Homo sapiens: one gene and its partners. The protein of the gene in region 3 interacts with the protein of the main gene of each other region in a biochemical or structural test. Each region holds a gene or a part of one and is shown on either strand. Other genes may lie near its edges. The genes, in order: MARK1, GSK3A, MAPT and HDAC6.

What was found.
Region 1: of the proteins of MAPT (region 3) and MARK1, one has a biochemical effect on the other in vitro, tested with the Homo sapiens proteins (4 studies listed by BioGRID).
Region 2: of the proteins of MAPT (region 3) and GSK3A, one has a biochemical effect on the other in vitro, tested with the Homo sapiens proteins (4 studies listed by BioGRID and IntAct).
Region 4: the proteins of MAPT (region 3) and HDAC6 form a complex in vitro, tested with the Homo sapiens proteins (4 studies listed by BioGRID, with this or other methods).

What each region holds. Positions count from the first base shown.
Region 1 is NC_000001.11:220,649,514-220,657,994, reverse strand, and holds part of MARK1 (serine/threonine-protein kinase MARK1), read right to left. Parts: intron 7,376-8,481; coding exon 7,275-7,375; intron 6,010-7,274; coding exon 5,845-6,009; intron 4,898-5,844; coding exon of another isoform or gene 4,895-4,897; coding exon 4,643-4,894; intron 206-4,642; coding exon 161-205; intron 1-160. UniProt on the Homo sapiens protein: Serine/threonine-protein kinase. Involved in cell polarity and microtubule dynamics regulation. Phosphorylates DCX, MAP2 and MAP4. Phosphorylates the microtubule-associated protein MAPT/TAU.
Region 2 is NC_000019.10:42,228,726-42,233,119, forward strand, and holds the end of GSK3A (glycogen synthase kinase-3 alpha), read right to left. Parts: coding exon 4,385-4,394; intron 3,958-4,384; coding exon 3,771-3,957; intron 3,425-3,770; coding exon 3,332-3,424; intron 2,143-3,331; coding exon 2,069-2,142; 3' UTR 1,465-2,068; downstream 1-1,464. UniProt on the Homo sapiens protein: Constitutively active protein kinase that acts as a negative regulator in the hormonal control of glucose homeostasis, Wnt signaling and regulation of transcription factors and microtubules, by phosphorylating and inactivating glycogen synthase (GYS1 or GYS2), CTNNB1/beta-catenin, APC and AXIN1.
Region 3 is NC_000017.11:45,988,119-45,996,599, reverse strand, and holds part of MAPT (microtubule-associated protein tau), read right to left. Parts: intron 6,723-8,481; coding exon 6,525-6,722; intron 5,141-6,524; coding exon 5,014-5,140; intron 2,677-5,013; coding exon of another isoform or gene 2,623-2,676; intron 202-2,622; coding exon 1-201. UniProt on the Homo sapiens protein: Promotes microtubule assembly and stability, and might be involved in the establishment and maintenance of neuronal polarity.
Region 4 is NC_000023.11:48,795,957-48,805,421, reverse strand, and holds the start of HDAC6 (protein deacetylase HDAC6), read right to left. Parts: upstream 3,356-9,465; 5' UTR 3,280-3,355; exon of another isoform or gene 2,871-3,279; intron 2,760-2,870; coding exon of another isoform or gene 2,730-2,759; coding exon 2,637-2,729; intron 2,552-2,636; coding exon 2,423-2,551; intron 2,295-2,422; coding exon 2,206-2,294; intron 1-2,205.

The DNA of each region.
Region 1 (8,481 bases), on a different chromosome or scaffold from region 3:
CTAGGTAACATTATGAAAACCCACCCCAATATAAAAATCTAAAATACGCATGCTATCTAGTTATTAGATCTATTCATGATCATTAAGTGCTGTAAGTATTTCAAAAGTACGTTTTCATACACAGGGACCTAGCAGCGAAGTATTAATAGTGGCTCCTCACCTTGAGGTGTCGGTTCTGCCACTGGCTTCGCCTTCACTTGGATCCCTCAAAACAAAGTGAAGGTTGAGATTTAATGATAAAAGTAAAAAATATATCAAGAAAACCTATATCTAAAATTATTTTAAAATTAGCTTGTTGAGCAAACTTCTACCATGACAGTTTTCTATTACTAGTCAGTCTGAGACTATTTCTCATATTTTTCACCATAACCGCATGTAATTTATCATTTATTGAGCGTCTACTCATTTTTGTCAAGAGGCAATATGAGGTGAAAGTTTGAAATTTTTTTTTCATAATCTTCCAATTCCCAGCCATGATTCATTTGAAGTCATAATTTATCTTTTGGTTTAGTTTAATCTAAAGTTAAAACTATTTAATAATTATCAATAGCAAGATTCAACTTCAAATTTGTAATTATGTATAATTCTAGTAGTCGCTCAATTTAGAAAATATATACATTAACCTTGTAGTTAGCAAATAAACACCAATTTCCAAATAAGCAATTTCTTTTAGAAGTTATGCTAACAATTCATGCACATGATAAAATATCACAGCAAATTAACAGCCTATCCATGTAGGCAAGTCTAAAAACACGGATTCAATCTTAAATAAAAACACTGACCTTACCTGGATATCCACCTGCGAAATAAAACCAGGAAAACACTACTAATTGTTCTGTGTTGCATGTAATTAATATTTTTGAAGTCTACCAAAATTTTAATGCTTTGTTATTTTTAAAGGTAATTAAATATCTTGTGATAAAGGGTAAAATACTATTAAATAGTGGGAAAAATCACCAACTTGAATCCTTAAGTTAATACTGTCTTAATGTTTTAGCCATTCCAGAAACATTTCTATTATTTATGTAAAACGAATGCAATAAGAATAAAATCAGTGGTACTCTCCCATCCCCCAAATTCATAAAACACACCCACATACCAAGCCCTAAAATTTTAAATTGTTCTTAAGAATATGAACGCCTTATGCCTCTCAGGGTCTTTAACTAATACATGCCTTTCTTAACAAACATATTATGAAAAAAAAAATTTTTCTATCTGAATTTAAAAGAATACTAAAATGTATTCTCACATTCAAATGTAATTTCTTAAATTTCTATTTTTAATAACTGGCATTTTCATTGGGAAGTATAATAAAAATTCAATGCCATCTATACAAATCCATTTTTATTATAGCACATTGAAATAAATAAAACATTTTTGAGCAGGCTGAAAGTGAAATGTACATTTTCAGTTACATGTAGATGAACTGATATACACAGATGGGCAGTATACCAACTTGGCAAGCAAGACAGTAATGCTGTTGACTCCCACTGCTAAGACAAAATTCCTTTAGGAAGGGACAAAAATCTCACTGGACTTTTCTGTCCTATTTATATTATGCTTTATTATTCACTATTAGCAAACACCTATACCACAGCTGCCAAACTTAAAACATTAGGAGTGAAATGTCCCTTAGACCCTATCTCCTCTGCTGTAATTGACTGAAATAGCAATTGACCCATACCCTGTTCCTGCCTACCTGGATGCCAGTAGGAACATTGGAAAAATTTCTGCTACTTGGCAATTGTTTCAAAGAGCCCAGGAAGTCTGCTTTAAGTAGCCATGGTAGGAGGCAGATGGAGCTACAGAAGGTGCAGCTGGCTCTAACAGCATATGCAGCACAGCATGCTCTCCAACACTTAACACTTAAAAAACAATTACCTACAGATAGCAATATATACTCAACTGAACAAACTGGGTTGTTCCCTATATAAGAATGAGCTATGGTTAGAAAATCATAAGGTTTGGTGTAGAAGTGAGCCATGCAGGTATTCAGGGCAGAGAATTCCAGGCAGAAGGAATAGCAGGTACACAATGCCAAAGCAGTGCTTAATGTACTTGAGGACAGTCTGGTCCCTGTGTGGCTGGTGTGGAAGCAGCAAGGGGAAGAGTGGGAGAAGAGGTCAGAGCAGAAATGGATGGCCAGGTTACACAAGGCCCCACAGGCCACAGTGAGGGCACAGAATTGTATTCTGAGCAAGGTGAAAGCTAATCAGGGGCTTTAAATTTAAGAGTGACATGATCAGACTTGACATGACACTGCTGAAACAGAAGAGGAGGACAAGGACAGAAACTAGGAGACCTATGAGGAAGTGAAAGATGAATAGTGGTTCAGAGTATGAAGGCAGTGGCGGGAGTGATACAAGCAGTTAAATCCTGGAAATGCTGTGAAGGTAAAGCCAACACAAATTGCCAATGGATCTGAGGTGGTATGAGGAAAAGAAGTGTCAAGGATAACTCCAAGGCTTATGGTCTGAGCAACTGTAAGGACAAGGCTGCCAATTTCTAACACGGTGAAGAATGAGGGAGGGACAGGTTTGGGAAGAGGAACGAGAGTTTACTTTTGAACATGTTCTGTTTCAGAGTCTATAACGTATCTAAGTGGAGAGGCTGAGCAGCAGTTGGATATGAGTCTGCAGTTCAGCAGAAAGATGTGCGCTAGAGATACAGTTAGGAGTTGTTCATACAGGACGGAATCTAATGTCATGAGCCTGACTGAGATCACCAAGAGTGTAAGGAAAACCAGAGAAAAAAATGTGTCCAAAGACTGAGCTCTGGGGCATTCTAATATTTAGAGGTTGGGGGAAAGGCAAGGGAATCTGAAAAAAGCCAGCAAAGGAGCCTGAGAAGTGATAGCTAGTCTGTGAGGTAGGAGAAAACCAGAGCCAAGCAAGGGAAACGCTTTAAATGTGTGGAATGTTTCAAGATAGTAAGTTGCTCACAGGAAGGCAGGAGACCCATCAGTCTCACTCACTGCCGTAGCAATAGCTCCTACAAAAGGGCCTTGCGTGTAGTAGGTCTCCACATATGTGTTCAAAGACTATATGGCAATCTTTATCAGAACCTCCCAACAGACCAGCTCTAAGGCACTTTCTTGCTTTGGCATTCTATCTCACGACTTCCTTTCCAAAGTACTCTGTTTCCCCTAGAGTCTAAATTTTTGTTGCAGTTAAGAGAAATATTTTGCACAATGCTTAATGCACAATTAGTAATCAAGCACTAAACTATAAACCTATTTTTCTTCACTTTAAAATTAATTCTGGCTTAACCATGAGAAAGTACTGGCTTTTTGAAATGGCCTTAAATAGACAAATTCCAAAAGCAGAAACTACTGATAATCTGACTAGTACCCTGCAGATGGCCGGCTAACACTATGATCTAACTTCCATGCTGACTCTGTTGGTGAACTTTTAGTTCTTTCTCTAGCAAGTTTCATGCTGCATAGTAATTGCCCCAATGGTACAAAGTCACTGACTGATATGGTTAGAAATTTATGTTACATTTGAGGCTTTAAAGTTTTTAATTCAGCTATGTGATACTGGGCAAACTGATGTATGAACCAAGCCTATAAATAGCTCCATGACAAGGCAAGTAAGACTGAAGCTGCTTCTTCTCTTTTCCACATCCACTCTTTGAAATCCTAGAAACACTAATAACATTGGAAACTAAGTATTTAATTAGTATTTCTTAAAGCAAGTATAATTATTTCTTACCCATCATTGAAGGCTCAGCTGAAATGATTATATGATAGGGTGCCTTCACTGTCTCCCTAGATAGAAACAATTGTGTCTTCCTCTGGAATCCAGCATGTTGCCCACACTTTTTAGCACATGTTCTGCTTTATATCATGGCTAGTTGTTTGTCTGCTTCTTACAAGACTATAAGAATCTGGAGGGCACAGATGCCATCTTACCTATCTTTAGATTCTGTTCTGCACCTAACACAGTGCTTTGTCTGTCGCAGGGCTTAAGTAGGCATTTAGTGGGACCAGGAATAGATGAAATCCACATCAGCCTGCATTGTAGTAGCAACTTGTATCATCAATGTGCACTGTACACGTATGCATAGTAAGCATAGTAAGTATGCTTACTTTTTAGAAAGTATAATTGTATTGTTTAAGTAGATTAGACCTTTACTATACATGTATTCATTTTGTGTTTACTATGTTTTGATGATAAGGTTTTATGATGTAAAATTGCATAAGTGATCTGTGACTCTGGTGTGTAGGCTTTTTATGCAAGAAGAAAAAAATGTAAATTATATATTATTAGTAAGCAATTTAAAAGTATTGTCAAGATAAATTTGAAGGAAACATGTAAACTCATTTCTTTTCCTCAATCAAGGCTTTTAAATATAAAATAATCTTTTGTTAAAACACACATTTTTGAAGTTAAGTCTTTGTTCTTTCCATTTTATTTTACAGATTTTTAAAATCTCATTTTGTCCATTTTTTCCTTTCTCTCTCTTAAGGAAAAATACTTTATGTCTTCCTAGATTTTTTTCTTCCAACTCTGTAAAAGAGCAGCTCTAATGAAATGTTATGAAACCATTTTAGAAAATTATTATAAAGATTTTTTTAAAAAGTCTAGTTTCCTTTATAATTTCTAGAGGAATCAAAACACGACAGTACATTGGTACTGACCTGCGAACAAATTTGGATGTGATTTTGCTTATTATACCAGTTGACGTTCCCCTTCTGGCATGTGCAAATGCACCCGTTTCATGGGATGGTGAAGCAGGTGGCCCATTATAAGCAACGCTGCGTCGCTCCCGGAGCTGTTCACCATGGAAAGTGCTTCGGCTTGAGCTCCCTCGGGGAAAACGGGTCCGGTCTGGAGTCGCAGTACTAATACTGTGAGCAGATGGGGAAGCAGCAGGCACTCTCTGGGTTGTACTGCTGGGACAAATTAAGATATATCATTCAGAATAATGACAAGAAAACCTTTCACTCAAGCTAAAAACTTGAAACAAATAGCTATGGCTACTTCTTTTGGCCCTACTTTATTTGTTCACATTAGAGATGTGAGACATGGGTTTGGAGTAAAATTTCAGTTTGAAATTAGGTACCTTTTGTTTGGTCACTAAAAATCAAGAAATGACTGAAACAGGGACACAAAGATAAATACTTTTCAGTATCAGGAATGCCAAACCAGGAGTACTGCAAATATTTTTTTAATATTCTCCTGAAACCACTTAGCAATGTTGAACACAAATTTTATTGTTTATTAAAAAGGCTTTGAATAAAATAATTTCCTATTTCTAATTTAGGCCTCAGTGATGCTACAATACCACATGGCACCACCAATATGCCTAACAAATCTAACAGAGGGTTAAAATGTTCAGATGTACTGAATTTGGGAAATCTTAAAATAGAAAAATACTAGAAAAACAATTATACAATTTTATATCTGAACAGGCTCTTTGAGTTCATCAGTTTCATTGACAGGAAAACTGAAGCCTGGTTTTATTAAGAACAAGGAATTGAGCCTGATCATTATCTGCGGGTCTCAACTCACAGTCTAGTGTTTGTTCGTATGGTTTAAATAATAAAAAAATCAATTTACCTAAATGACAAATTAAACAGCAATTTTTAACTTTATAGACGGATGTAAAATCAAATCCTTAAAAAAATTCCTCTAGAAAATGATTTAAGTTATATGCAACATTTCCAATAACAGCCAAAGTACATAGAAAGTTTATGTTACAATTCAATTTTTCCTCCATAACAAACACTGAATCTTATTAGAAAGGTCTTAATGTGATGGTGACTATCATGTATTTTCACATGGTGCTATATTTTTAGAAACTCTTAATGAACAAAATGAGATGTAACCAACACATTACCCAGGCCGGTAAGCTTCAGAGCCGTCTTTAATGGTTGGCAGTGTGACTTTAATAGGATGACCAGAAGTGGACATGGACTTCTGGTGGCGGGGTCGTGCTGAGGGGACAGCAGAGGCCACAGAAGAGCCTGCAGAAGATATGCTACTCACAGACATCTCCGTAAGGCTTTCACCATAAAGCAGTTGAGAAGACCATGGAAAAAAAGAGGAAAATTTGTGGTTTACTAAAATTTAAGAACTATATTTTAAAAAATCTAAACTGACTAACACCTTTCATGACTGAAACATTTGAAAGAAACTAACATTAGTGGCATTATTAATGACTAACAAAACAATTAATATTCTTATGAAAAGTATACAGGGTGAATTTATCACTATCATCTATGAAAAAAATCTCACACACACTATGTATGTAAATGTGAGAAAGTACAAAATTATTTTTGTGGATATACGATAGTTTCAGATAAAATTATTATGACTGGAGTCATTTTTTACTTCCCCAAAGTCACAGTTTGGTGTGATATGTTGCTGTAGTTCATTGTCCATTATTCATACAATCAGAATTGATAATTATACCAAAAATATTATCTCTAGATTCATCAAAACACTTTTAGATCATATTATGAGTCAATAGGTTAACTGTTGCAGATTAAAGGAGCTGCAGATTAAAATTTAGTATAGGAAAAATCATAAGTCTGAAATCAATTTCCAATTATCTTATGTCCAAAGAAGATACATTTTTCTTTGTATGCCTTACAATAGCACTTACTTTACATTCTTATTAAGTGAGAAGAAACAAATGTGAGAATGGGTTGTACACACTACTGAAATGACTGAAGGTGGTACTAAGAAAATAATTTCATTAGAATAGGCTCCATGTCTTTGTACTATATTGATGAGTAGTCCTTGTGACTCATGATAGAAAGAAGACACATCTTTTAAGTAATAAAAATAATATGATTTATTATTATTTGAAATAAAACACTTTAAAAATTATGTGGTTCTGAATGATGAGAAATAAGATGGTCACATTTTTTTCAGAGGGAGAAAAATAAAGCCTTTATTGAGATACAGCAATGACTTGATGGGAAGTGAAAGGGAAGGAGGCAGCAGGTGCATAAGAGAATAAGATTCAAATTATGAAGATGAAATTAGGATGGTATGATCTGCTTTGTTATAGAAAAATATTTACTATCAGATTTTACTCAGAAATTGGCAGGTAAAGAGATTTGTTTCTTGTTTTCTCTAAATGTTTTCCCATCCTTCTATCCTGGTACAGGAAAGATGTCTTACTAAGAACGGTTGGTTGCAATCTTACTATTTCATGTAATAACTGCTTTTCTCCTGACCCATTCGGCTGCAGGCATTTCAGCAAGGGCACTAACACAGAACAACAGCAAAGGTATTACTACTTGGCACTGTGGCATTTACCTGCTGTCTTTTCCATTCTGCAATGCTACGTATCGATCTGTGGTCCTTTCACAGACATATGTATTCCTTCTTGCCATGCTACCTCCAGAATACACATTGTTCTTCAAGAATAAAAAAAAGGCAATTAAAAAATTATAAATATATTTGTGGAAAGCCAAAGAAATGTATTTAAGCTGACTTTGAGAAAAATCCACAGAATTTTAATTGATCAGAATCTTATATTAACAAGATTATCCCCTGCCTCTCTCTAATTTAGATTTCAGAAGTAAAAGACAAAGCATCAAAAATGAACTCATTACAGTTTTAGCTTATCCTCCTATAATAGCAGCCAGCAGTTTGGAAGCAATAGGAGAGCTGGGTTTCTATTCACTCCCTCCTTTGTGAGCTGGTGGTAGAGAAAGGGCAGGAGCAGGGGTGTGAGCAGCTCTAAGTAACAAGGAGTGCAAGCCAACTCCACACTAAGTATCATCACCAACAGGAGCCTCGGGCAGTGAAGATGGCATGCCCACTCAGAAGCCAGTGGGCTGCCTTTCTTCACCTGCTTGGGAAACTCTCTCAACCACCAGGAATATTAAGCAGACTAAATGCCCCAGGATCAAAGGCATGTCCAGCTGAGGCCACCAACAGTGGTGTGTGCAGTGCCACCCTGAAGATATTTCCTCGAGTCTCAGGTTTGAGCTAGAAGGCAGGCCAAGTCTGAGGAGCCTTGGAGAGAAGAGAGAAAATAAGCAAAAAGGGATAGGCAGGTAATTCTCCTTACCATGCACACAACCTTTGACCTGTAACCCACTGTTGTGCCTGCCAAATCCTTGACTACTCACCAGTAATAAAATATACAGAAATGATTTTCAATGTGGATATAATACTCTTCTGTTTAATCCTTACCCAACAGAACAAAAATTTTTGCTACTTTTGACTAACCCAGCATTTAAAATATATAAGCAACCTAAACATTGTTGAATCATGAGGGCTACAAACTTAATAGATACTTGCTTGAATTCACTTTGAAGAAGGAAAAAAACTCATATAAACAAAACTGAATACAGATTTAAAATTTTTCAGTAGTGCAGGTTCCTAGATGGAAGGAATTTTGTCACCAGTTATATAAAAAGCATATGCTAAAAACTATAAAAGTATGGTAGCAAAACAGGCTAAGATTATTAAAATGTTTAGGTAAGACTTGGAACATGTAGGCCAATTGTGATGG
Region 2 (4,394 bases), on a different chromosome or scaffold from region 3:
TGGTCTCAATCTCCTGACCTCAGGTGATCTGCCCGCCTTGGCCTCCCTAAGTGCTAGGATTACACGTGTGTGCCACTGAGCCTGGCCATAATAGTCTTTATCTCCCTAAGCACATGCAGGTGATTCCTGATAGGCTCCTCCCAGGCCCCTGCAGCCCAGGGTGCTCAGGCAGGGCAGGCAGAATGCAGTTGGGGATGGAATTGTCCAGGAGGGAGGCCTAGACTTTGGAAGGCCTTGAAAGCTGGCTGAGTAGTTCCAGGTTGGGGGAGGGTCGTAACTGGTGTTAGATCTGGGCTCAAAGTGGGGTGAGTGGGAAGCTAAAGATGGTCCAGCAGAAGACAGGGCTGGACCTGGGAAGGGGTCATGGGGTGGTAGAAGGGTGAGGGACACCTCACTGACTTCACGGCTGACCACGTGTGAGTAGCAGGGAGGAAGGCGTCCCCAGGATCCCAAGGTCTGCCCCTCGCCCAGAACAGCCATCCTCCCCCTTATCCATCAGCTTGCTCTGTATGTTCATTCATTGATACTACAAACCAGGCGAAATCTGGGTGGTGTTGAGCAAGGAAGGGGCAGGGTCTGTCCTATCCCAGGCAGTGTAAAGATGCCCCTGGAGTGGGTTGAGCAAACTGGAGAGCCCAGACCCCACAGGAACAGTCCCTTCACTCCATCTGGGACATTTGAAACTCCTCCCTTTTTGTTCACCGGTGGAATCCAGTAGGGGGCATACCCATTGCTCCTCCCCAGGCCCCCTTCCACCTCTGGGGTGTCCTGGCCACACTCACTGCTCGGTGCCATGTGGAGGAGATAACATTTCCTTCCGCCCATGCCCCACTATCTGGCCCCAGCATGTTTTAAGTGAGGATAAAAGTCAAGTTCTCTGTCCCCACCTTCACAGGGTTGTCACTTCCCAACATCCCTAAGAGGTGGACCAGGTAGGTGTCCTGTTTAAGACTTGGAAATGAAGGCTTGGAATCTTCTAGGGTTCCATCTCCAGCCATGGCCACCCAACAAAGAGTCTACAAGCAGGCTAAGTTTTGGCCTGAGTGACTCCTCATCATCTCATGTCCCCCCAGACCCTAGAGCAGCAGGCAGCTTGGGCTAAGACAGACGGCCCATTGTTCAAGTCCTGACTCTTCTGTCACTTAAGCTCCATGGCCTTCCCCTCTCTGATCCCCAGTTGGCTCACCAGTTACTGGGAGGTTAATCCCTCCCTCCCTAAGCAGAAGCAGATGATTTATGCTGGGTCATGGAGCAGGCTCCTCCTAGGCCTCTACAGCAGATAACCCAGATGGAGCTCATCACCACACGTGCAGAGAAAGCCACGGTGTGAGAAGGTTGGGCACCTGAGCCAGGGCCTTCGGACAGCCCTCTGCCTGAGATGCAGCTCACTCCCGTCCCAGAACAGTCCCCCCACCGGAAGCCCCCACCACCTCAGCGGAAACAGGCAGCCGGACAGAAAGCAGGTTTTCATGCCAATAATTTATTGAACGGAGGTCTGTACACAGGCAAACCTTACTGTGGAAACTAAGACATCAGGAGCTCTCTCCACTCCCCTGGCCCTCCAGGGTGGGGTGAGGAGGGAGTAGACCTTGGGGGCAGAGGACAGGAGGGGAGTTACAGCTGTAGGAGGGGCGGGGCCAGGTTGGACGGTGCGAATCGACGTTTTCTTTAAGAAAAAAATTATAACAATCTATTTACACCCGGGGGCCAGGGAAGGGAAGAGGAGACGGGCTGGGCTGGTTCTATTTACAAGGGACACAGGAGGGGAGGGGGTCTGGAGGAGGTGGAGGTCTGGGGGAGGGGAGGGGGCCAAGGGGGTAGGAGGTCCTCATCCCCCCAACACCCTGTCCTTCTCTTCCCTCCCCACAACCAGTTAAAATCCTCTTAAAAAGCCCACCACAGGGGTGAGGCTGGTGAGGGAGGGACTGGAGGTGGGGACAGGGACTCATTTACCTCTGCCCTCTAGTCTAGGGGCCCAGCCAGGGCAGGAGCTTGATGGGCTATGGCCCCCCTTCCCAGCCCCTCTTGGGGCTCCCAGATGGAAGTGGAAGGGTGCTTGGTGGGGCCCTCAGGAGGAGTTAGTGAGGGTAGGTGTGGCATCGGTCGACTGCCAGTCTGAGCTGGTCGGAGTCTCAGTTAAAGCTGGAGGGAGGCAGGGAAGGAGCAGAGTTAGCCTTTGCCTTTCAGACACCCCTTCGCCCAACCCAAAAGTAGGAATTCTCTTGTCATAGATGCTACATTAAAAGTTACAAGCTGTTACTTTAGGTGAAGGGTTGCAAACTCAAGTGCTAAAGGGCCACGATAGTAACTGAGTGACACACCAGAGTGCCAGGCTCCATATAAGGCGGTGGCTGGGCTGGGCACAGTGGCTCACGCCTGTAATCCCAGCACTTTGGGAGGCTGAGGTGGGCAGATCACAAGGTCAGCAGTTCGAGACCAGCCTGGCCAACATGGTGAAACTCCATGTCTACTCAAAATACAAAAATAAGCCAGGCATGGTGGTATGAGCGTGTAATCCCAGGTACTTAGGAGGCTGAGGCAGGAGAATCACTTGAACCCAGGAGGCAGAAGTTGGAGTGAGCCGGGATTGTGCCACTGCACTCCAGCCTGGGTGACAGAAAAAGACTCCGTCTAAAAAATATAAAGGGCGCCCACTGTCTACTGTCAGTAGGATGGGCGGGCCCATTGCTGCCCAATCTGATTTTCTTCCCCAAGAGAAACAGGAAATCTGAATTTTTACATAAAATAGCCCCATTTTTAAACGTGGACACCATGGCCAGGCACAGCGGTTCACGCCTGTAATCCCAACACTTTAGGAGGCCAAGCGGGAAAATCACCTGAAGTTCAAGACCAGTCTGGCCAACATGGTGAAACCTCATCTCTAGTAAAAATACAAAAATTAGCCAGGCGTAGTGGTGTGTGTCTGTAATCCCAGCTACTCGGAGGCTGAGGCAGGAGAATTGCCTGAGCCCAGGAGGCGGAGATTGCAGTGAGCCGAGATCGAGCCACTGCACTGCAGCCTGGGTGGCGAGTGAAACTCTATTGCACAAAAAAAAAAAAAACAAACTTGGGCAACGAATTCAACTTTTTGTTTGTGTTCAGGCCAGACGTTATTTCTCTGGCTTTCCCATTGGCATTAAACACATTTAAACATTTGTACGCAAGAATACCCTCTAAAGGTGGTCATTCACATGTTGTAAGATGTGTTTCCTATGCCATCAAAATGTCGATGATTTAAAAATACATTCAGGAAACCCAGTCACTGAGCGAACAGCCCCACCCTCTCCAGGCTGAGAGATACTTTAACCCCCAGCAGATGGTCCCCACTTACCTTGTGAGGACGGGGTGAGGGTGGTAGTGCCCGCTGGGGACCTCAAGTGAGGAGGGATGAGAATGGCGTTGAGAGACGGTTGGATGGAGAGTTCTAGAAACAGGAATTGACATGCTAGTCAGGGTAGACTACAGCAGGGTTATGATGGGCACCAAATGGGAACCCAGCTATTGGGAAGGCCAGTTGTTTGTGGACACCTTCAGCCACAGACCTCTCTCAATGAAAAACCAGAAAAAGCTTAGCACAAGGCAGATCACAGTAAAGCACAACTGAAGCAGGTTCGATTCCCCCTGAATCTGGGAGTCATCTTTCCTGAGCCCCAGGCCTGCCTTGTACCCTGCCCTTAGCTCCCCACTCCTGCTTCAACACCAAGCTCCTCACAATCTTTGGCTGCCCCCCTACCCCGCCCCACTCCCCAGATCCCAGGCTATGCCCTCACCACCAGCACTGAAGTTGAAGAGAGGGGGAAGTGGGCGGTTGTTAGGCAGCTGGGTTCCCAGACATCGCAGTTCATCAAAGAAGCTGTGCGCACAGGCCTCTAGTGGGGAGAGCCTTGAGGATGGGGTGTACTCCAGCAGGCTAGAGCAGAGCGCGATGGCCTCTGGCGGCGTTCGAGATTTGAACACCTGAGGGATGGGTGCAGGGCTCATGAGGGTGAGATGCCCTGGACACTGGCATACTCCTGTTATCTCACTGCCACAGTGCCTGCGGCAAGTTATGACTGGTTGCTTCCCACACCCCCACCTTCCAAATGAAGAAACTAAGGCCCAACCACTAAGGAGAGGTCAGTTTGTATCGGGTAAGCAGGCAGCCCAGGTCTGGGACTATATGAGCCCTGCTGACCCTCCATAAAAATTGGAATCTTGAATTTACTTGTGGGTTCTCAACTTTTAAAATGCCATAAACTTTGAAAGCGGATGGATGTTATTGATCCCTGGATAACTCTTCAAATCCTCCCAAGCCGTGATTCTGAGGCTAGGTCCACAGAACAGTTGACCTCCAAGGGGGACCAGCTCTCAGCCATACTGCCCTGAGCCCCTAGCCCTGCCCCACCTTTGTCCAG
Region 3 (8,481 bases):
GGTCTGGCATGGGCACGGGGGCTGTCTGCAGGCGGCTCTTGGCGGAAGACGGCGACTTGGGTGGAGTACGGACCACTGCCACCTTCTTGGGCTCCCGGGTGGGTGGGGTTGGAAGGGACGGGGTGCGGGAGCGGCTGCCGGGAGTGCCTGGGGAGCCGGGGCTGCTGTAGCCGCTGCGATCCCCTGATTTTGGAGGTTCACCTGGGAAGGAAGGAAGGGAGTGAAGCCAGGACTCGAGTGGGTGGGGTCAGAAAAGGCCCTGGGGGCTGCCTGTCCCGTGGGTCCATTCCCAGGCTCACCACTGGGTTAGGCAGGTGGAAGCCAGGTTGGAAGCGCAGCTACAGCAGACGGCTGCCCTGGGGAAGCATCTCTTCCTCCCTGCCTTTTTGCTTAGGGACAGAGACACCCCTTTCCCAGGAAAGCAATGGAAAACCATCAACCACCATCCAATACCCGCTCCCAGAGAGGTGGCCAACTCGGCTCCACAGTCTTTGGGTCAAGAGATGGGCTCCAACAAGCTGTGTGGCCTCAGACAAGTAACTTCCCCTCTCTGAGCTCAGAGGCCTTAATTTGAAAATGGAAATAATTATAATCCCTGCGGCCAGCGTGGCTCCAGGAGGTGGTAGATATGCTTTGCCAACCTCTAATACAATTCTTCAGGGCCTTTATCCTAAATAAGGGTGATGCAGTGACGAGACCCAGCTGTGCCCTCAAGCCTGGACGCTTCTGACCCTTTCCCCACAGGGTGAATGTTCAGCTGTTCAGCTGTTCGGCTAGTTCAGGGCTCCTGCCAGCACCCTGGCTCCTCTGTGGGATTTGGCCTTCAGAACAGGATGCCTGCTCCACGCCTGCCTGTCCCTAGCTGTCCACACGAGCCATACCGCTTCATGCTGCTGTGCCCTGACGTACAGTTCCCCACCTGCCATGCATAGCAGTTACTAGCGCACCCTTCCAACACCCTGGAAGCTGCTGGGGGGTCTCTTCTCCTCTCCATGCAGATGCTGTCCCTCCCTCCTCTGGGTGTCCTTTACCCTCAAACTTGCTTCTGTTACTGCACTTCCCAGGCCCCCGTTACACTTCAACAGTCTGGTATTCTATCTCATGGGTCTGTATTTTCCAAAGTGTGGCCCACGGAACCCTGCGTCAGAATCTCCGGAGCTTTCAAGGAGGAAAGTGGGAGTTGCAAAATGCAAATTTCTCGATCCCCTTCAAGAGTGGATAGAGCAGAATCTCTAGGGGTGGGACCTGCAAAGCCTCATTTTTCTCAAGCTCCACAAAGACTGAAGTCTGAGAACCGCAGGCCTCACCCTGTGCCGAGGTGTGCTTAGCTCCCCTGCAGTCTGAGAACTTAGCTTTCCTGCAAGTCCAGAAGCTTCCCGCAGCAATGCCCCTGCCGCTGCCCCAGGCATTTGCTGTAACACATACCTGCTGGCCAGACCTGGAGAAGGGCAGCTCTTTGAAGCACCCATGTAGCCAATGGGCAGCTTGGCCAGTGACGAATAAGCACTAGTTTTCTTTTGTTGTTGTTTTGTTTTTTTGTGGTTTTTTTTTTGAGACGGAGTCTTATTCTGATGCCCAGGCTGGAGTGCAATGGCGTGATCTCGGCTCACTGCAACCTCCGCTGCATGGGATCAAGCGAGTCTCCTGCCTCAGCCTCCCGAGTAGCTGATATTACAGGTGTGCAGCACCACGCCTGGCTAATTTTTGTATTTTTAGTAGAGACTTATTTTAGTAGAGACTGGATTTTTGTATTTTCAGTAAAGATTTCTTTAGTAGAGGTTTTACCATGTTGGCCAGGCTGGTCTTGAACTCCTGACCTCAGGTGATCCACCCGCCTCGGCCTCCCAAAGTGCTGGGATTATAGGCATGAGCCACCGCACCCAGCCAGCACCAGTTTTTAGAATTTGACTTCCATGTCTTTTTTAAAAATAATGTTTTTTATAGAGACGGGGTCTGACTATGTTGCTCAGGCTGGTCTTGAACTTCTGGCCTCAAGCGATTCTCCCACCTCAACCTCCCAAAGTGCCGGGATTATAGACGTGAGCCACCGTGCCCTGCGGATTTCCATGTCTTGGATGTTCCTGAAGTAGTACGCTCTGTGGCAATAGGACAAACGAAGCCTCTTATTTTCCACATAAGGAAACAACAGATGGGGCCTCGGCCTCCAGGGCCTCCAGGCTCAGCCTCTCTGCCTCCTCAGACCTCCCATCCTCCTGCCTCCCTGACTTCAGAGACCCAGGGTGACCAGTGGGCTTGGTGGTGGTGGCTCCAAATACTTTTCATGCCTCTTATTTACAGAGTGGTCGTGGGCAAGTCACCTGACCTCCTTAAGCCTATGTCTTCATCTGAAACATAGGGAGACAGCCAGGCATGGTGGCTCATGCCTGTAATGCCATTGTCCCTGAAGTCAAGGAGAGCACACAGGATTAGAAAGCCCATCAGACAAACACAGCTGCGCAAACTGCACAGGGAAGAGAATTCGGACTGCTCCATCTTCAGGCTGCGAACCCTGTGTGAACCCTGCATTGCAGAAAAGGGTCCTCCCGGCTCTAGAAACACAAGCCAGTGAATGGCCACACACGCAAAGGGAGGCTGCTCCCAGCGAAGTAGGCTCCCGAGTACCTCTCTCAGATCTGGGCCCTGCAGGGGGTGGTCTTCTCTGGACTTGCTTAGTCGCTTAAAGAGAAAAATCCACGAAAGCCTTATTATCATCAGGCTTAAACAGGGCCTTAATGAGTCCTTCACGTGGCAGGCACCCACAGCTGGCCCAGCAGGGGCCCCATTCTGAAACAAGGTCGAGGGGCCCAAGGGGGAGGGTCTCTCCACCTGCAGGCAGCCACCGAAGAGCAGGTAAGACCCAAAGGGAAATGCATCACGTTGTTTCAGGTTGTTACAAAGTGTGAGTCCCCTGTAATCCCAGCACTTTGGGAGGCCGAGGTGGGCGGATCACTTGAGGTCAGGAGTTCGAGACTAGGCTGGCCAAAATGGTGAAACCCTGTCTTTACTAAAAATACAAAAATTAGCAGGGCGTGGTGGCCTGTGCCTGTAGTCCCAGCTACTCAGGAGGCTGAGGCAGGAAAACTGCTTGAATTTGGGAAGCAGAGGTTGCAGTATGCCAAGATTGTGCCACTGCACTTCAGCCTGGGTGACACAGTGAGACTCCGTCTCAAAAAAACAACAACAAAAAACAGAGTGTGAGTCAACTGGCCCGATGTTAAGTGAAAAAAAAACAGCAGGATCCAAACGCTACTTAAAATCCTGTCAAAATTCTGGGAATTATCCCTGGATCACATGTATATGAGAAAAACACCAGGCCAGAAAACACGAAGCGAAAAGACAAAAACAATGGGCCTTAGTGAATGGCCATCCTTGGGGGTGCCACTGCACGGCATGTGTGCGAGAAATGCCACCGCAAAGACACGCAGCAGGTGGTGGGCAGGCTCTGGGCAGCTCCCTCAGGCCAGGGAGAAGCAGAGTCACCAAGATCCAAGATCCAGGCCAGGCTTTGGTCACAGCCCGCAGCAAGTGCCATAGGCTGCCCGTGCCACCAAGGAGCAAGTGCAGGTCAGACACCCCTACATGGTGCAGAGTCTAAACCCAGGGGCCTGGAATACTTCACTGGGGCAATGGAAGAGAGAAGTGCTCGGGCAGGCAGGCAGGCTGTCCCTAATCCCCAAAGAGGACGACTGTTTTTTTTTTTTTTTTTTTGAGAAGGAATCTCACTTTTGTCATCCAGGCTGGAGTGCAATGGTGCGATCTCAGCTCACTGCAACCTCTGCCTCCTGGGTTCAAGTGATTCTCCTTCCTCACCCTCCTGAGAAGCTGGGATTACAGGCGCCCGCCACCACGCCCAGCTAATTATTTTGTATTTTTATTAGAGACGGGGTTTTGCCATGTTGGCCAAGCTGGTCTCGAACTCCTGACCTCAGGTGATCCGCCCACCTTGGCCTCCCAAAGTGCTGGGATTACAGGCATGAGCCACCACGCCCAGCCGCGACTGTTCTTAATAGCACTCCTGGCTGCAAAATAACTCAATGGATGCCTTACTGGGTACTCAAAATTGACTGGGTTTTACTCACAGGAGCCCAGGGCAACGGGCCCAGCCTGTGACTGCTCAGCTAAGACCCTCAGGTTTTGCAGCAGACTCCTAACGTCCCTAGCAAGTTAAGCTGCCCAGGGGTTGAGCCCTGAGTGACGTCACCCATTGTGACTTATCCAGGCTGCTGCTCTGTCTCCAGAGACATTTGTCTCCAGAGTCTCATTTGGGGACTGAAAACATGCCATGCTGGGGCTGCCTCTATGGAACCCTGGACTTGGGGCCAGAGAGGCTCCGAGAGCTGCCACTTAGTAGTCATGTGACTGCATTTTCCTCGGGTTTAAAATGAGCTGGTTAGACTCAGTCAAGCAAACTCTCAGAGGCTCGATTTCTTTCTTTTTTTTCCTTTTTCTGTATTTTTTTTTATCATGCTGCAGAATCAGCCTCAATTTCTTCATTGATAAAAAGTGAGGATTCAGGCTGGGAGTGGTGGCTCATGCCTGTAATCCCAGCACTTTGGGAGGCCGAGGCAGGTGGATCACCTGAGGTCAGGCGTTCGAGACCAGCCTGGCCAACATGGTGAAACCCTGTCTCTACTAAAAATACAAAAAATTAGCCGGGCATAGTGGCAGGTGCCTGTAATCCCAGCTACTAGGGAGGCTGAGGTAGGAGAATCGCTTGAACCTGGGAGGTGGAGGATGCAGTGAGCTGAGATCACACCACTGCACTCCGGCCTGGATAACAAAAGCGAAACTCTGTCTCAAAAGAAAAAAAAAAAAAAAGGTAGGGATTCAACATTTGCCTCAGAAATCAAAAGGACTGAGAAGGCAATGAAGACTCCAGTGCTTAGTAAACTGCAAGCTGCTGACCAGCTGCCAGGGGTTATTCATTCTCAGTGGCCTAAGGCCTCCTAAAATGAAGGCTGTACCTCTGAGAGCTTCAGCTTCCTCTAAGATTCAAGAGAACGTTCTTCTTACCAGAGCTGGGTGGTGTCTTTGGAGCGGGCGGGGTTTTTGCTGGAATCCTGGTGGCGTTGGCCTGGCCCTTCTGGCCTGGAGGGGCTGCTCCCCGCGGTGTGGCGATCTTCGTTTTACCATCAGCCCCCTGTAAATGAAACATGATAGAGGGGTTTTTCACCATTGGGAAAAGTTACTGCCACCAAGAGTCAACACCAGCCCCACTCCGCCACCTTGACTCAAAACGTGGCTAAGACTGGGGTGACCCTTTGCCTCCTAGATGCCACTAGTGTCTGCTACAACCACAAGGGCTTGCTGGGCACACAAACCCACATCCCCACCCAAACTCCAAGTTCCCTGAGGACATTTCCTCCCAGAGGAACTGTGTGCATTAGTTATCAGCATGAGTTGTGCCAAGGCCAGCAGAGCTCACAGCAATGATCAGGTCACTCTCCACTCCATGTCAATCATCGGCAGGACATTAGTGCACTACACATATGCAGACATCCATTTTCTGACTCTAATTATGGATTTATTTGGCTGATGGTGGTTGGCTCCACCAGAGGCCCCTGGGGGCAGTGTTGAACCTGACCAAGGATGCTAAAGAGAGCTAGGTCGTGTTCTTTCATTCTCTCGCAAACAACCCTAAGGCCTCAAGAACTCCTTGGGTGTGCTCAGACCAGGCGAGCACCCGAGGAGGCGAGCACCAGCATCACTGACAAAGCTGGCAGAGTCGGGCATGGCACAGTCTAGGGACTAGGGCAGTCCCTGGGTTCCGTTACCCAGCAGATGACCCTTAGACATAACACAAACTCAAAAAAGAAACTGACATTAACCAAGGACCACAAGCTAGTTGAGGGGGCAGTGAGCTCACGGGGCAGTGTTGCTATGGCGTGATGCTGTCCTACCCAGATCAGGGCAATCTGGAAGCATTTCTCTTGCCAAAATCAGGAATGGGCAAAGGAACCCAATGAGAGTAGCAATTTTGGGTTTGTTTTTTAAACAATTTTTGCGACAGGGTCTTGCTCTGTCGCCCAAGCTGGAGCTAACTACAACCTCTGCCTCTGGGGTTCAAGCAATCCTTGTGCCTCAGCCTCCCGAGTAGCTGCGATTACCACCACGCATACCACCACGCCCGGCTAATTTTTGTATTTTTAGTAGAGACAGGGTTTTGCCATGTTAGCCAGGCTGGTCTCGAACTCCTGATCTCAGGTGATCCACCCTCCTCGGCCTCCTAAAGAGCTGGGATTACAGGTGTGAGCCACCGTGCCCAGCCTTAGAGTAGCGATTTCGAAACCAAGGTCCCACCAGGTGTCTTAGGAGCTGCTGCTATGAGAGCCTGTGGGGTGCTGAGAGGGATGGCCCCCAGCTCTCTTTTCCCCTTTGCCCAGAATTCTAACTATTTTACACGGTGCTTCTATGCCAGAACTCATTTGAAGAAAGGTCTTTGAGGCTAAAAAACAAATAAACAAACCCCACATTTGCAAACCACAGCAGAGCAGCCTGGTTCTTTTCAAAGGTGGTTTCCTTACCTTGAGTTTCATCTCCTTTGCTCCAGAACTGCCAGTTCGGGAAGTGACAGAAGAGACGTATTTAGGAGAGGAAGGTGGCTCTGGGCACACAGCAGGGCTGGAGGGTTGGATCAGAGGGTCTGAGCTACCAGGAGTGGGGTGTTTGGGGCTAAGGCAAGGCCTATTTTTCAAGGTTTTAGCAGAGGAACGTGTGGATGTCTTAAACATAAACATAAATAAAATCAAAATAAAAGTCAGCACATGGAGGAGGGAAACAAACTGAAAAAAGGACAGTAACTAAAAATAAATAAGGCAGGTAATGGTTGAAAGCAGTGATCTCCAGGCTGTTTGAATCAGGTACCCTTAATATCCCTTCTGATCAGTAAGAACAGGAAAGTGACCGTCCTCCCCAATCACAGTTCTTTTTCTTTTTCTTTTTCTTTTTTGAGACGGAGTCTCGCTCTGTCGCCCAGGCTGGACTGCAGTGGTGCAATCTCGGCTCACTGCAAGCTCTGCCTCCTGGGTTCACGCCATTCTCCTGCCTCAGCCTCCCGAGTAGCTGGGACTACAGGCGCCCACCACCACGCCCGGCTCGTTTTTTTGTATTTTTAGTAGAGATGGGGTTTCACTGTGTTAGCCAGGATGGTCTCGATCTCCTGACCTCGTGATCCACCCGTCTCGGCCTCCCAAAGTGCTGGGATTACAGGCGTGAGCCACCGCGCCTGGCCCTGACAAAGCTTTTAGAAGAGGACATGAAAAAGGAATGGAAGTTCTAGTACGTTCTTTCTCCAGCCTGTTGGATGTTACTGTGCCCCTGAATTTGGAGACGACTGGTTTAAAGGTGCTTCACATGAGTAAGTTGATGGAGATCATCAAGGTACATGAATCTTAGGATGTTACTCAAGAAAATGTCCCCAAGTGTGTCACGGGGTCTGAAGGGCCTTACTTTCTACTCAATTCCAGGCAAGGTGCTTTTTTACCTGCCCATTAACCCATGGCCTCTTCCACCACACTGACAGACTCATATGGCTACAATCAGGAGTGTGCCCCCCCCAAGTTGGAAAGATTCTACCTGACTTAGGTTACACCCACCCCCACCACACATGTGCTTTCTGATTAAAGTCTCAAATCAAACTAATATTAACACTATCTGGTGAATCCTAATCTGGCCAATGTTAACTCTTTTGTTTGTTTGTTTGTTTGTTTGTTTTAGAGACAGGGTCTCCCTCTGTTGCCCTGGCTGGAGTGCAGTGGTGCCATCACGGCTCACTGCAGCCTCCACCCTTTGGGTTCAAGTGATCCTCCCACCTCTGCCTGGCCAATTAAATTTTTTTTTTGAGATGGGGTCTTGCTATGTTGCCCAGGCTGGTCTAGAACTCTTGGGCTGGGGACATCCTCCCACCTTAGCCTCCCAAAGTGCTGGGATTACAGGCATGAGCCACTGTGCCAAGCCTCCAATGTTATCTCTTTTTCTTTTTTTTTCAGTTTGTCAGTGTAAACAACACTGCTTACTTTTGAACCCATTCCACAAGAGGAAGCAGCCAGGGACGGGTGTCTGCACGCCTGTCCCTATGGAGGCGGGGCTGGGGGGGGCCCTGGAACCAGGATGCAGGATAGATGGTGACTGACACCCACAGTTCGTCCTGCCCGTGGGGGATTTTGACGGGTGGGCATGGCCCTGGAGGAGAAGGGGGTGTTTGGAGGGGAACAGGTCACACTCTCGGGAAACAAAGTGGGGAGGCTAAGCCTCGAAGTGTTTCCAAGAGCAAGTCAGAGCTCAGAGAAGGGTCCTGTCCCAGACTTCACTGGGCTTCTAGGGGATGCTATCTTATTGCTTTCCAATTCCCCATGGAAGCGGCCAAGGCCCTCTGTGTGGTCAGGCTTGGTAAGGAGGACCCAGGAGATGAAGTAGCAATGGGAGAGGAGGGACACAGGCTGGGGCCCTGGGGCTGATGACAAGAAAGCAAAGCTGGGGTGG
Region 4 (9,465 bases), on a different chromosome or scaffold from region 3:
ACAGTCACAGATGCATGAGGACACTGGGGAGCTCCACATCTGTTCTCTCCACATCTCCCCATCCACCCTTCCACAGCTGCTTACCCCAAAACTGTGGTGTCAGTCCTGCCTCCCATCAGCTCTGGTGTGTGACCCTCTCCTCACCACTGCCACTGCTATTACCATACCCTCCCGCCTGGGCTGTGGCGGCATCTCCTCGGCCTCCCTGCTTCGACCCTCGCCACCTCAACGGTCCTTTCTGTGCATAGCAGCTAGACACTGGTTAAAACCCTAATCAGTTCATGTCCCTTCGAGGCTCCCATCCCATTCTGAGTAAAAGCCAAAGTATTACCCATGCCCAGAAGGCCCTAAACAATCTGTCCTCCATCACCTCTCTGACCCCATCTCCTACCCCTCCCTCTTTCCTTTGCTTCGCTTCACCTACACTGGTCTCTTCCCTGGTTCTCAGTTGAACCAAATACTCTTCAGCCAGCCCTAGAACTTTACTCTAGCTGGCCCCCCCACCCCCGCCTAGAATACTCTTCCTCCAACTGTCTCCATGACTTACTCCTTCACCTCTTCAGATCCCTGCTCAAATAGTGAGGCCTTCCCTGACCAGCCTATTTAAAATTGAAGTCTCCTCCACTGTACTTTCTCCTACTATCCTCCCTTTACTGCTTCTTCATAACACTGCTCTTTCTACCACAGTGCATCATTTACTTTTTGTTTATTTATTGTCTGTCTTCCCCCTTTACCCTGAAGACACAGGCTTTTGTTTGTTTTGTTTACTGCTGTATCCCTAGCTCCTCAATAGATGGTAAATAGGTATTCCATAAAAGAAGTCTTTTTCCCATAGTAAGTTAGTCTTAGGTTGGGATAAGGGATATAGATATTAATTGGTAAACACACAAGTATGATAATTAGCAAACAATGTCATGGGCTAGGAAAATAAGATCAGGTATTGGGGTAGGGTTTGGCCAGGCAAAACCTTCTCTGAGAAAGTCTCATTGGGATGTGAAAGGCAGCTGGAAGAGTAGAAGACCGAAAAGAATCTCTGGGAAAGGGGTTGGTCAGGGTACAGACCAGAGGCAAGAGGGTGCCTGGCATGTTGGAAGAACAAGGGGAGTAGTGTGGGCGAGAAGGATTGGCTGATGAGGTCACAAAGTGATGTGGAGCCAGATCATGTGGAACCTTTGAGGCCAGGATGAAAAATTTGGACTTTACCTTGAGGGCAACAGTTTGCCCTTAAAGTACTTTTTTTTTTTTTATTTTTACTTTTTGAGACAGAGTTTTGCTCTTGTTGCCCAGGCTGGGGTGCAATGGCACAATCTCGGCTCACTGCAACCTCCGCCTCCCAGATCAAGCGATTCTCCTGCCTCAGCCTCCCAAGTAGCTAGGATTACAGGTGTGTGCCACCACGCCCAACTAATTTTTGTATTTTTAGTAGAGACAGTGTTTCATCGCGTTGGTCAGACCGGTCTCGAACTCCTGACCTCAAGTGATCCACCTGCCTTGGCCCCCCCAAAGTGCTGGGATTATAGGCGTGAGCCACCATGCCTGGCCTCCTTAAAGTATTTTAACAAAGACATCAACTCATACATATTTTTTTAGGTTGCTGCATGAACAGATAATAGAGGTGAGGTTGGAAGTAGGGGACCAGGGAGGAGGCCTCTGCAAGTCTAGGTGAGTGATGATGATGGTGGCAGTGGAGGTGGTGAGGAGAGGTCAGATGGTGAATATATTTTGAACATATAGCCAAAAGGATTTGCTGATTCTTTTTGAAAAGTAAAGCAAACGGGAGGTTTCATCCTTCTGTTTCAGTACAAACGTCTCTTCCTCTATAAAGGCTTCTGGGAAGCCCGGATACTAGTTTAGGATCCTCTATTATACACCCTTGAATCCCCTGGTCTTAAGTCTGTCTTCATTAAACACCTCATACTGCTGTTGGCTGTTTAATGATCTGCCCTCCTACTCATCAATCCGCTCCTAGAGAAGGACCCCTGTCTGTTGTTTGGTACATTTGTATCACCAACTCTTGGCACACAATAGGCACTCAATAAATGTTTGTTAGCTACATAAAAGAACCCTTTCAAGTGTGAGCCCTACCTCCCCAAATCATCTGCTTCCAGTATCCAGGCTGGGGTAAGAAAAGATTTATTCTTGCTAATGGGCTCTAAGTGTGTGTATTTTTGTGGTTTGGAGACAGCCTGGAGGACCCAGCCTCACCTGTCATCCCAGAGGCAATGGAATTCATTTAACTGCTCATCCAACACCAAGCCAGTGCCAGCCAGTGCTTCAGCCTCAAGGTTCAGATCCTGCAGAGGAAAAAAAAAAGGAGACACAGATCCATTTTAGGCCCTGAGTCAGAGGGAACTGTCCAGGGTGGGGAACCTTTGGGTTTTGATTGTCATACGAGGCTAAACTGCAGCCAGGCCCTGCTCACCATCCCTTGCAGTCCCACGATTAGGTCTTCTTCCATTGCTTGGCCGAGCTTCTTCATTTTGCCTTTCTTCTTTACCTCCGCTAGATTGGGGATAGAGCGGGGAACGGCTCCCTTTTTAATATTTCGCTTCTGTGAATCAGAGAGAAGGGTCAGAGTCCAGGGCATGACCAACTTGCTCCCTCTCCCCCTCATCAGGGCGGGTCTAGGGCCTCACCGAAGTGACACTGGAGTCCTGAGGGGGCGACTGGGGGTTCTGCCTACTTCTTCGCTGCCTGGTTGTGGTGGAATCCTGGCCGGTTGAGGTCATAGTTGAGGAGGCTTGGCCCCTGCCGCGGTTCTGGGGGTGGGGGGAGGAGCGTGGGTATGTGAGGGGGCTAGTGTGCCCTGAGGACCCCACCTCTCTGCCCTTTTCCAGGCTCCGCCCCCTCTATTAGATTCCATTCCTTACGCGATCTGATTCTCCACAGCCTTCCAAACTCCGCCTCTCTCAGGCCTTCTCCCTCCACTCAGGTGGCCATTCTACCCGGCCCCGCCCGGCCCGCTAGACTCCACCCCTTTTACACGATTCTCTTTCCCTGGTCTTGCCCTTTCACGGAGCAATGAGCCCCCGGGCTCACACAGTCCGTCTTAGGGCCTGCCCTTTCCAACCAATCACCGCCCCTTCTACTCTCCTAAGCCCCATTCCCAGACCCTCTAAGCCCAGCCCAGACCCCATTCCTTCACGAACCTGCCCTTTCGGCCTATCTCCCGGGATAATCACCCACCCTTTCACTCAGCCGGCCCCGGCCCCGACCCCGGTTTCGACTCCACCCTTAACGATTCACTTAACTCCACCCCTTATCGGGCCGGACCGGTACCTTCCACTCCGCCAGATCCCGCCCCTAGCGTTTCAACCAGCCCCGCTCCTCAGGGGACTGCCCCGTTCCTTCAACCAGCTCCACCCCCTGCCCAGACCCGACCGCTAACGTTTCGCTAACCCTCTTCAGCCAGTCCCTAGCCGCCTTCGGTCGGCCTCCGCCCCCTTCCCGCCTCCGCCGTCGACGCGCTGTACTCACCGCTCCACTCATTGGACGCAGCCCCTTTCTCAAACTCCGCCCTTGGCTCGCTCCACCAAGTTTCTGGCGACCTGTGGGGACGCGAGCGCTCAGGCTTTTCTTTTCCATTGGGCCTCGTCTCTCGACTGCCCGCCCAGATCCCGCCTCCAGAGGGGACCGTGCCTCAAGGCCGCGCCCCTCGCGCGAGCCACACCTCTCGCGAGCTCACAAGCGGCGGGGCGGTGCGTCGGCGTGCTACGCCAGCTGGGCTGAGCCACACCGCGAGCTCACAGGCGACGGGGCGGTGCGTCGGCGTGCTACGCCAGCTGTGCTGCGCCTACGTAAAAGGCAGGCGCCGGCGGTTCCCGACAGGGCTGCGGTGCAAGCTTTTTCTTGCCTCGGCTATCGTCGCTGTCGTCCCGGATGCCATAGCCGCCGCCCCTCCGTCCCTGTCCAGTCACTTAGGAGCCCTTCGGGTCGGCGGTGTCTGGAGAGCAAGCAAGGAAGCGAGGGAATTAGGAAGGGGCATCTTACCTTTTCCCCGCGACTTCCCGCGCGACGCGCCGTGATGACGTAGCGCGGGCGGGCTGGTTGTGGCTGGGCCGAGAGCGAGGTTGCCACTGGACGTTGGTGGTGGCGGCCAAAATAGGCGTGGTGACGATGCTAAATGTGAGGATTTTCCGAGTTAATATTCACTATGGTGGTACACAGGAAACACTGGCCGAATATTAGCTATTAATATTCTGCCGCAATATTCTGAGTGGAAGGAGTCTTAGTGGGGGCAGGGAATGGTAATGATAGCAAGTATTATGTGACAGGCATCGTTGTAAACCACAATTCTATGAGGTAGTTCCCATTATTAAGGCTGCTTTGCAGATAAGGAAACTGAGGTTACGGGACTTAACCATGTGACTTTGGGCAAGTTGCTGAACAGTTCTGTGCTCCGTTTCCTCATCTGGAAAGTTGTGATAATAATAGTGCCCAGGGCCAGAATGGCCTTGAGGATGGGAGTTCTCATGGGCAGCAGCTCTCCCTATCTGCCCCCTCCAACGGGTAACCACTGCTCCCAAGCAGTAATAGAAAGTGTGTGTGCGTCTGGGGAGCTGTCCCTAGGCACCCCCTCTCCCCCGCAACTCCCACTCCATGTCTAAATGTCAGCTCTGCAGGAGGCCGGTTTGTCCTCCTAATCTCCCTGTCTCATTCTCCACCATTTCCTACCGGGCTATAAGCTGGGACCGGAGAGATAAGCAGTCCGGGGGTTCTGCATCAGACTGACAGATTGACGGTCTCACCGCCCAGTAGCTTTGCCCTCTGATCCTCTTGAAGATGTCCTGCCGCCTCTTCCCTCTCACCCCTCCTACGTGAACCTATCTTTTGTCTCAGCGCAAAAGAGTTGCAGACCTAAGACCTTTAAACCCCTACACTCACCAAAGAAAACACATACAATGATAACACACTACAAAAAAATTCTAGAGTTCTGATACCTGCAGCCTGATAGAGTAGGGAGTCTTGCAAAGGGTCAAGGCCCATTTTTCTGTTGGATCAGAAGAGAGGTTTCTGAAGAGCAGGGGTCAGCAAACTTTATAAAGGGACAGAGAGTAAACATCTTAGGCTTTGCAGGCCACATACGGTCTCAGTGGCATTTTTCTTTTTTTCTCTTTTTAAAAAACAACCCTTTAAAAATGTAAAACAGCCCACAGTCTGGCTTTGGCTTGAATGCCATAGTTTGCCGATCTGTGCTGTAGTGTCAGGCCTTGGTCTCTATCTGGCTGGTATTCTTTTGCAGGATTGAGGGTAGGGGCCTTTTTTCCTAAGGAGAGGTATTCCTTTTGTGTGAGGTGTGTGAGGACAGGGATTCATGGGCAGGGTCAGGTCACTTCTAGTGTACCTCTGGTGGGTCATTCCAAATGTTCCTGGACAGAATGAGGACAGGGATTCCTATGGTTTCTATATTGTACCTTTACTGAATCAAGCAGGGGTTTCTAGAGAGCTCCAGACTATGGGTTCCTGTTCCTGTGCAAGTTAAGGATTAAGGTTTTGTTTTTTTGTTTTTTTGTTTTTGTTTTTTGATACAGGGGACAGGGTCTCACTCTGTTGCCTAGGCTGGAGTGCAGTGGTGTGAACACGGCTCACTGCTGCTTCAACCTCTTGGGCTCAAGCTGTCTTCCTACCTCAGCCTCCCAAGTAGCTGGGACTACAAGTGCATGCCACCATGCCTGCCTAATTTTTTTTTCTTTATAGAGATGGGGTCTCGCCATGTTGCCCAAGCTGGTCTCAAACTCCTGGACTCAAGCAATCTGCCTGCTTCAGCTTCCCAAAGTGCTGGGATTACAGGTGTGAGCCACCATTCGTGGCCAGGATGGGGCTTCTTAGACCTATGTTATGACAGCTTCCTACAAAGAGATCAGGTGGGCCAGTACTGGGTCACAGGTGTTTCTGTATAGGTTCAGAGCTTGTGTTCATATAGACAGTGAGATCAGGTGTCTAGATTTCGGTCAAGAGATTATTATTGGCCAGGCAGAATGGCTCACACTTGTAATCCCAGCACTTTGGGAGGCAGAGGAGGGCAGATTGCTTGAGCTCAGGAGTTTGAGACCAGCTGGGCAACATTACAAAACCCCATCTCAATAAAAAACACAAAAATTAGCTGGGTGTGGTGGTGTGCATCTGTAGTCCCAGCTACTCGGGAGGCTGAGGTGTGAGGATCGCTTGAGCCTGGGAGGGGAGGCAGAGGTTGCAGTGAGCCGAGATTGTGCCACTGTACTCCATCCTGGGTAATAGAGTGAGATCCTGTCTCAAAAAAAAAAAAAAAAAATTACTGGCCAGGCGTGGTGGCTCACGCCTGTAATCTCAGCACTTTGGGAGGCCTAGGTGGGCAGATAATTTGAGGTCAGGAATTTGAGACCAGCTTGGCCAACATGGTGAAATCCCATCTTTACCAAAACTACAAAAATTAGCCGGGCTAATACACCTGTAATCCCAGCTACTCAGGAGGCTGAGGCAGGAGAATCTGGGAGGCGGAGGTTGCAGTGAACCAAGATTGCACCACTGCACTCCAGCCTGGGCGACTCCATCTCAAAAAAAAAAAAAAAAAAAAAAAAGGAGAGAGAGAGAGGGGGAGAGATTATTATTAATTAGGCTAAATTATCCTAGCTGCTGTAACCCAGAATTTCAGGGGCTTAACGAATAAATGTTTATTTCTTGCTCATTCAAAAGCCAATCTGAATATTTACTACTGTTCATTCATGGACCCAGGCAAACTCTATTTTGTGACTCTGTCCTCCTCTAGGTCCTTGGAGTTAGTTGGTTTTCAGTTGGTAGACAGGGAAAGAGAGGAAATGGAGGATTGCATGAGAGATTTTTATGGGTCAGGCCTGGAACTGGTATATGTCACTTTTGCCCATACTCCATTGGTCAGAACTCTGTCATGTGCCCACATCTATCTGCAGAGGAGGCTGGAATAGGTAGAGTGAGCTCAGGAAGAACAGGAACAGGTCTCAATGAGCTTATAGCAGTGTCTGCTATAGGGTTCCGTAGACTCCACAGACCTATGCTGTCCTATATGGTAGCTACCAGCCACGTGTGGCTACTGCTCTTGAAATGTGGCCAGTCTAACTTGAGATGATGTGCTATAAATGTGAAATGTACACCAGATCACAAAACTCAGTATAAAAAGTTTAAAATAGCTCAGTAATTTTTATATTGATTACATGTTAAAATAATATTTGAATATATTGGGTAAAGTTAAGTATATTGATGTTATTGAAAATAATTTTATCTTTTTTTTCTCTTTTTAATGTGGCTACATTGAAAATATAAAATTACCCGTGTGACTCACATATTTCTATTGGACAGCACTGCTATAGAAATTTCTCTTTAAAGCATTGAGACAGGGACTCTTACTGTGTAGGGGTAGGAGCATCTCTGGGTCAGGTTAGTGTTTCCTGTCTGGGGTCAGGAGAATGATTCTGTTACCTGGTAAGGCAGGTTTGCAGGGAAATACAAAGGTTGGAGACATTGTAAAGTGAGAGGGAAAACTGTGAAGGCATTTTTTCCCATACAGATTAAGGTTAGGTGTTCCTTTTGAGGCCAGGAGAGTGGTTTTCTGTAGACGGCCAGGCCAGAGGATCACAGCGTACTCAGGCCAGGTATTTCTGTCCAGGATCAGAGCTGTGTTACTAGAGACAGACAGATCAGGTGATTCCATTGGGGGTTAGGTCAGGGGTTCCTGTACAGTCTCCAGGCAGGTATTCATGGTGATTCTGATTATGGGTTGTTTAACAAGTACAGAACAGAGGTTCTTGTACAGTGTAGAGGTTTTTTATACTGGTTCATTCTTTGGATTACTCTAAAGAGGCAAATCAAAGGTTCCTGTTGAGTGTAAGGGCAGGATTTTCTGTGCTAGCTCAGGGCACAGGTTCCTGCTGGGGGTAATAGAGGTTCCTGTGCGGGTTCAGGACAAAGATCCTCTGTGTAGTTAGGACACTGCCCCTTCAGAGATTCAGGTCGGTGTTTCTTTGTTGGGTCAGGGCAGTGGTTCCTGTACAGGGTGCAGGTGGGGCTTCTGGGACAAGGCCAGGGAAAAGGCTGTTATAGAGAATCACATTAAGCTTCCTGTTCAGGGTAAGCAGTGTATTTCCAGAGAGTAAAGCTAGGAGTTCCTATAAAGATCAGAGATTCCTGTAAATTACAGAGATTCCTGTAAATAAATTACTGTAAAAGTAAAGGATTTCTGTTGAGGTTCAGGACAAAGGCTTTCTGCAGAGACCAGTCAGAAGTCCTGGAACAGTTTTAGGGTCAGGCTTCCTGTAGAGCAGCGGTCCCCAACCTTTTTGGCACCAGGGACCGGTTTCGTGGAAGACAGTCTTTCCACGGATGGTGGGGGATGGTTTGGGGATGAAACTGTTCCACCTCAGCTCATCAGGCAGTAGTTAGATTCTCATAAGGAGCACGCAACCTAGATTCCTTGCATGCACAGTTCACAATAAGGTTCGTGCTCCTATGAGAATCTAATGCCACTGCTGATCTGACAGGAGGCGGAGCTTAGGTGGTAATGCTTGCTTGCCTGCTGCCCACCTCCTGCTGTGTGGACCAATTCCTAATAGGCCATGGACCAGTACCAGTCCGTGTCCTGGGGGTTGGGAACCCCTGCTGTAGAGGGTCAGGGTAGTGGAGCTAATACAAGGTAAGGCCCAGGAGCCTCGTGCAGCATCAATAAATGCGACCTATATAGTGAGAAGGGGGGGTCCTGTATCAGGTGAGGCCATAGGTGCCTGTATAGGCTGAGGTCAGGGCTTAAAGTAAATGGTCAAGACAGGCATTCCTGCCATAAGGTCAGGAAGTGGTTTTCTATACAAGTTAAAGACTGAGGTTCATGTTGAGAGTTGGATCATGGGTTCCTGTGGACTCTATGGGATAGGGTGTGAGGTCATGGATTGTTGTGCAGGGCAACATCAGGGATCATTGTCAACAATGAAGGCAAGAGGTTCCACACACAGTCAGGGTCCTTGAAGAGGTTGAGGACAGGGATTTCTGTAAAGACAGAGCTGGGTCCATGGTTTACTACTCAGATTATTGTGAGTGAGGTGTTTTTAAAATGCTACCTGGAGGACAGGACTGCAGCAGTGTGAGTACAAAGGTGTTCCTGTCTGAGGTCAAGACAGGATTCGTATAGGGAGACTGAGGCTTGTGTGGATGGTCAGGACAAGGGTTCCTGTCCAGGGTGTGCAGGGGCTTCCTTACAGCTTAGTCCAGATGTCCCTAGCTGGGGTTAGGCAGAGGTTCCTCCTATTCAGGGTAAGCGCTGGCATTCCTGTACAGGATCAGGATGGGTTTCCTGTCGATAATTAGATGAAGGGCTCCCCTAGAGCTTCAGAGCTAGTCTTCTGTACCAGGCTGGGGGAGCTATACTTATGGGGGTGAGGCCCGGGGCTCCTGAACAAGGTGGGGCCAGACATGTGTCCAGCACAGGTTCTGAAGGGGGTTTTTAGAGGATGGGGCCTCCTGCAG